Homo sapiens: one gene and its partner. Changing the gene in region 1 together with any one later gene gives a genetic interaction. Each region holds a gene or a part of one and is shown on either strand. Other genes may lie near its edges.

Region 1 (3,661 bases):
ACCACTTTTTTTTTGTTTTTTGACTGAGTCTTGCTCTGTCGCCTAGGCTGGAGTGTAGTGGTGTGATCTCAGCTCACTGCAACCCCTGCCTTCCAGGTTTAAGTGATTCTCCTGCCTCAGCCTCCTGAGTAGCTGGGACTACAGGCACGTGCCACCGCACCCAGCTGTTTTTTTTGTATTTTTAGTAGAGGCGGGTTTCACCATGTTGGTCAGGCAAGTCTCAAACTCCTGACCTTGTGATCCGCCCGCCTCGGCCTCTGAAAGTGCTGAGATTACAGGCATGAGCCACTGAGCCCAGCCAACCATCTTTTGTTTATCTGTCATATGTTTGGACTTAATCAAAAGTGGATGACATCTGACATTGGGGTTCCAGGGTTTTTGTTACCTATAAACAGATAATTGCTTAACTTTCTAATAATATATTAAAATATACTTTATTTTAAAAATCTAGTTGGAGCCATTAGATCTTGCAAGTTAGCACTAGAACAAACTTAAAATAGTTTGTCTAGTTTATCTTGTTCGGCACAATTTGAAGCATTTACAATGGCTTACAGTGTATGAGAATGAACTAGGAGATAATTTTGTAAGTGAATAGAAACCATTGTAATAAAATCTCCTGAAAGCTTTCAGGTATTCAATGATTGCTGGTAAATAAACAAAACCAGGTTTTTGAAATTAAAAAAATGTTTTTGAAAAAGTTTCTAAAATTTGGTATACAATGATCAGAAAATCTCAGGACACCTTTGCCTGTCCTTAAGGACCTGCACAAATTCACTAAGTGGTTTGTTTTTATTCCAGCACTAAAATAATGGATAATTTGAGTATCAGCAGAGACACTAAAACATGCACAGTTTTTCACATACAAATGCCAGTTTGTCTTATCAGAGAGACTATGTGCAATGCATCAATTTTATCCAAAACCTGGAGTAAAGGAAAGAAATTTTAGCAAAGGGTTGTAATGACATCATAAGTAAAACGATAGGACTGCTAAAACAATCATGACGTCATCTGCTGTGCACTGGCCTGCAAGCATGTAGTGGTAAAATCGTCAGATATCACATTTCTGCTTATAAAATAAAATCCTTCATGAATGCTCTTAAAACAACTGCAAAGCAAGCAGTGGTCTTTACCTCCATATGTGTGTGTGTGTGTATATATATATATATATATATATATATATATATATTTTTTTTTTTTTTTTTACATAAAGGCATGAATATACAAGGTAATGTCAGCAGCTGTACTCCACTCTTTATTTGTTGCAAATCTACCTATTTGTTTCCAAAGGATGTCTGCAAATAAATAGGTAACATTGTACAGCTTTCAACAGTGGATCAGAACATAGATGTCTCTTCTAATTCACAAGTACCAATGGCTCAATTAATTTAAGGGACATTTTCTGAGTTGTGTGATTTCACATGTATTTATCGTGTCTAGAACTGTGCAAACTTTTGTTTCATTTCTCTCTTAGATTTCTGTAGGAAGAGTTAAAGGATGTGAAGTAGTCATTTTACTTATTCATAACACATTTTAGGGAAAATTGTGCTGTTGCTGTTGGGGAGAAAGTTAAAGCTATCAACTATAACCTGGACTCCAGTCCAATTTTTCACATCTGGTTGCTACTTTTAAAAAGGATCATTTTAATTTTTAAATGCAGAATGTGTTGCACTTTATCTTTGACATTCCAGGTTTCCTCATGGTCATTTAGAAAAATAAAGCAGGAAATTCTAATGCCTTAGCATCTACTTTAATAAGATGTTTGCATTTATAAAAATAACAAGAAACTGAGGGTTTTGCTGAAGGAGCACAGGGCCTACAAGTATTTCCTCATTCCTGTCCCTGTGCCTGGAGGCCCAGCTAAGCATTCTGTTTCTGAGAAACTCCCCTTGTCACAGAGGCTGAATTAGTCAGTCCCTCTTTTGGGCTCCCACTGAAATCCCAAATCACATCTGTTATAAAACATTGCATTACAGGGAGTGATCTTGTATGTGTCTCTCTTTCTCAGCCCTTCCAAAAGGTAAGTCGGTCCTCAGAGGACAAGTGCAGTTATTTTGTTCCCTTGGTGTATCTAGATCCCAGCATGCGATGTGCCTGGAGTATATCAGCAGTTCTCAAAATCTGGCATGCATCAGTCAGAATCTCCCTGAGGACTTGTGTGCACAGACCGGGGCCTGCCCTTCCAGTGTCTTACTCAGAGGCCAGGGTGGGGTCCAAGAGTGTGCATCTCCAACAGGTTCTCAGGTGCTGCTGCCATGCTGGGCCCGCTGAAAGCCACTGCAGAAAGCTTTTTTTTTTCCCTTTTTTTTTTTGGCAGTTAAAGAGAGGTTTTCTTTAGTTAAAACCTGGGAGGCACTCCTGGTGAATTTTGGTCAAGAGCGCTTTCTCTTACAGACTAGGAGTATATATTGGTTTTAGGGTGAGGGAGATTATCAGAATTTTGGAATGTTCCTGTTTGAGGGAGAAGTTTTATGGCAGGGTTGGAATATCTCTGGGAGGAGGCAAGTTTATCTTGGGGCAGGCATCTTTCCGGCCAGAGAGAGGTTATCCCGAGACTGGCATCTTCCCTGCTGGAGGGGGGTTATCTCGGGACTAGCATGTCTCTGGTCGAGGAGGAGTTTCGAATGTTTCCGGTTGGAGATGTTATTTGTGGTTTATGGTCATGCTGACCTTAGCCATTAGGCTGATGCAGTTTGAATTTAGGCAGTTTTTTATTAAGGTGAACTTTAGAATGAGGGGCTTGTCCAAGATGGCGATGCTCCTGCTCTGTCGAGCCAGACCCTATAGTTATAAAAAGGAGGAGGGGTGGAGTGTTCTTTCTGGCTATTTCCTCACTGCAGGAAACTTTTAATGGACTAACTTGTGAAATAAAATGTGACTCTGGAACTGATTTACTAATGAAATATGCAACTGTTTCTGGATCTCGAAGGAGCTCATGAGATGAGTAAGAAATGGGGGTCTGAGAGCAAAGACAAGATTTCTTTCGTTACGAGCTACATACAACATGTAATCCACTCCTCAGAATTGCCAAGGGAGCTTTAAGAAATGTGTGTGTGCCAGGCTCCATTCCCCAGAAATACTGATTGTCCTGGTCTGGGGCACAGTAAGGCACCCTCTTTTTCAAAAGCCCCTCAGCTGGTTAGAAAGCATGGTCAAGGTTCAAAAGCTACTGCTTTAAGAAAAAAGAAAAAAAATCATCTCCTACTTTTTTTGGTTCAGCCACTAGCGTACAAAACCAAGTAATGTGATGTGGTCTTAAGCAGGGAACAAGAGATCCCCATTCCGAGTATTTGCAGCAATATATAAACATGACTTCTGGTACACTTATATGCACAATATATTATATTACCAGTTGCTGATAACTGCAACTAATCAGCTGCTGACTATAGCAGCCTCACCTAGAGAGAAGCTGGTATCCAGAACCCCTGGTGTGGCTCAATTTCGATGCTGACGGTGAGCATGAGACAGGTGGAGCCAGGAAACTGTGAGAGGAGAACTTGTTCTGTGATCTAAGACAAGTAACTGACACGGAAATATGTGAGCAAATGACAACTCAAGCCACATTGCTCTCCTGTGCTCTGGACCACCGTATTCTACTGCCTCCTGGACTTCTCCATCTGAGCACTTCAAGCTCAACACATCTAAAAGCTGAATATTGATATTG
Region 2 (2,521 bases), on another chromosome or scaffold:
AATGTAATTCTTCATTCTAATCTTGGCCTTTCCTTGGTCTTTTTACAGAAAATCTCTTCTTGTAAATTTCACTGTGACTGAATACAAACATGCCTGGTTCATAACTTATGTTATTTTTTCTCAAATACTATCATTAAACTTTAATTTTGAGTATCATTTCAAATTATGCACTCTAGTAATCTCTCCTTATATTCAGTTTCACTTTCCACAGTCTCAAATCCCTGCCTTCTCGCCTTCTGCAGTTGGAGTTGACAACAAAAATATCATTTTGCTTGAGTGAGTGACTGTTGGTTTCTTGGGTGGTATTTTCATTTATCAAGTTTTTGGAAACTGAGAAGTTATTCCATTTCTTTTGTTCATCTGTCTTGTATTAACTAATCCTTTTACGTCTCACTCTTCGTACTGAAGTGACTTGCACACTGTAGGTATCTAATAAATATTTGGTGAAGTGAACCCAGAAATAGTGTATACCAGTGATAATTTTGCATATTTAATTAAAGCCTTACTATATAAAAGACTGTGTTATAAACTATTCACTATTCAGCATACAGGAATACATTTGACTAACTCAAATTTCCAACCCAGTAAGTCATATACTTAAAAACCTCTACCAAGAATGGAGAACTGATGAGGGTCACAGATAAAGGCCTATTACACTCCACAGTAGAGAGAAATTTCGGCTGAGGAGATCAAGGAAGGCTTTGTAAGAGGAGTGCTATTTGAGTTGCGTCTGGAAAGATGGAGAGGGTGAAAAGCTGGGATGATGAGGGGAAAGGCAATATTTGCAGCAGGACCACATGAGCAAGGTAAAGAGGGAATGTCCTGGGAAAGCAAATATTAAATAGTTCACATAGCCTACTATGAAAGGCACATACAAGGAAACAATAAGGAATGAGGTTGGAAAGACAGGCAGGGGCCAGCCTGAGAGAGCCTTGAAAATCAGGGTAAGTGGTCAAGACCTAATTCTCTAGGCAACACAGAGTCACCAAAAACCCTTAAAAAGAGACGTGGTGTGATTAAAGCTATGTATAATCTTTTAGTAGATTAAAATGAATTGGCCAGGGAAAAAGGGGTTGCTGCCATGGTCTAGAATGAACCCTACTGGTGGACGGACCAGCAGACAGAAACATGAGTCTTTTCTGGTAATACTTATCTAAGCACCCTAGGAATCTCTGATTCTCTTTTGCTAGTTGTTAATACATGTTAGGCTAATTTTATAGTAATTCCAGTGTGTAACAGATGGATAGTATACAGACTGATTTTAAGAGTTATAGATCATTAAGAACAAATTTTTATCTTTGCTTCATTTTTTTAACTTAGCTGCTTGATTTCAAAATGTTTCTGAAATGTTTTATAATTTTTATTAACAATGGAATCATTTGTGAACTTTTTTATTACATTCAATTTTCACCCAATTCATTAAAAACTGGGAAATCCAATATAAATTTTGCATTTTGCAATGTGTTTCACAAAAAGTATGTTTATTGTCTAATACATTTTAATCAGAAGGCTTTACAGTTTGTAAAATAGTTTGTAAACAGAGAATCAGAGATTAGAAAGACCTTGGGGAATCCATTAAATTCAATCTCCTCCATGTACAGAGGCCTAAGGAGAATAGATGGTTTATTCAAGGTCATAGAATTAGTAACTGGTTTTGTCTGAATTAAAATTCAGGCCTTCTGACTAGATCATTAGTTGCTCTGAAATCTGTTTTAAGAGATTGTATGCAAAATCATACTGATAATGATATCTCCATTATAAATTTTATTTCTAGAGATAAACTTGGCTACAAAGATTAGAAAAACATAGTTGTACTATTTCATGCAAAAATAACCTAGTATCTTATGCTATAATAATATCTTGGCATTTTCTATACCTCGCTTCAAGTTGTCAGTTAGCAATACATTTATTAGACTTCAATGTGCACAAAATAGGGTAATCTTTTTAAAGTCTGATTTTCTCCATCTATGAAATGGAGATAACAGTGTTAGGTCATAGGGTTGCCATGGGAAAAGTAAATAAAAATGAATGTTAAAAAAAATTGTTCTATGAAATCTAAATAAAATGTTTTTAAAGAGTCAAGAAAAGCAAGTCACTTAAAAAAAAGGTGAAAGTCACAGAAGGAGAGGGAGAAAGATCCTATTGCTTTGCATATATCAAGTTCCTTTTCTACTTTAAGGAATCCAAACTGGAAATTGCTGATGCTGTATTATGGGTATAGTTTATAAAAGAAAGATAAAATCAAATTCCAAACACTAAACGATACTCAAAAGACCCTGCCCTAACTAATAAATGGCATTTAAATGACTTAACTTTAAGATATAATATTTAAGGGGCTGGGCGTGGTGGCTCACGCCTGTAATCCCAGCACTTTGGGAGGCCGAGACGGGCGGATCACGAGGTCAGGAGATTGAGACCATCCTGGCTAACACGGTGAAACCCCGTCTCTACTAAAAATACAAAAATTAGCCGGGCATGGTGGCGCGTGCCTGTAGTCCCAGCTACACGGGAGGCTGAGGCA

The links. A genetic interaction does not mean that the proteins touch.
Region 2: changes in EGFR (region 1) and PRIM2 together harm fitness more than expected from each alone (negative genetic interaction), as found in Homo sapiens cells (one large-scale study listed by BioGRID).

Annotation. Positions count from the first base shown.
Region 1 is NC_000007.14:55,025,517-55,029,177, reverse strand, and holds part of EGFR (epidermal growth factor receptor isoform a precursor), read right to left. Parts: intron 1-3,661. UniProt on the Homo sapiens protein: Receptor tyrosine kinase binding ligands of the EGF family and activating several signaling cascades to convert extracellular cues into appropriate cellular responses.
Region 2 is NC_000006.12:57,642,554-57,645,074, reverse strand, and holds part of PRIM2 (DNA primase large subunit), read right to left. Parts: intron 1-2,521. UniProt on the Homo sapiens protein: Regulatory subunit of the DNA primase complex and component of the DNA polymerase alpha complex (also known as the alpha DNA polymerase-primase complex) which play an essential role in the initiation of DNA synthesis.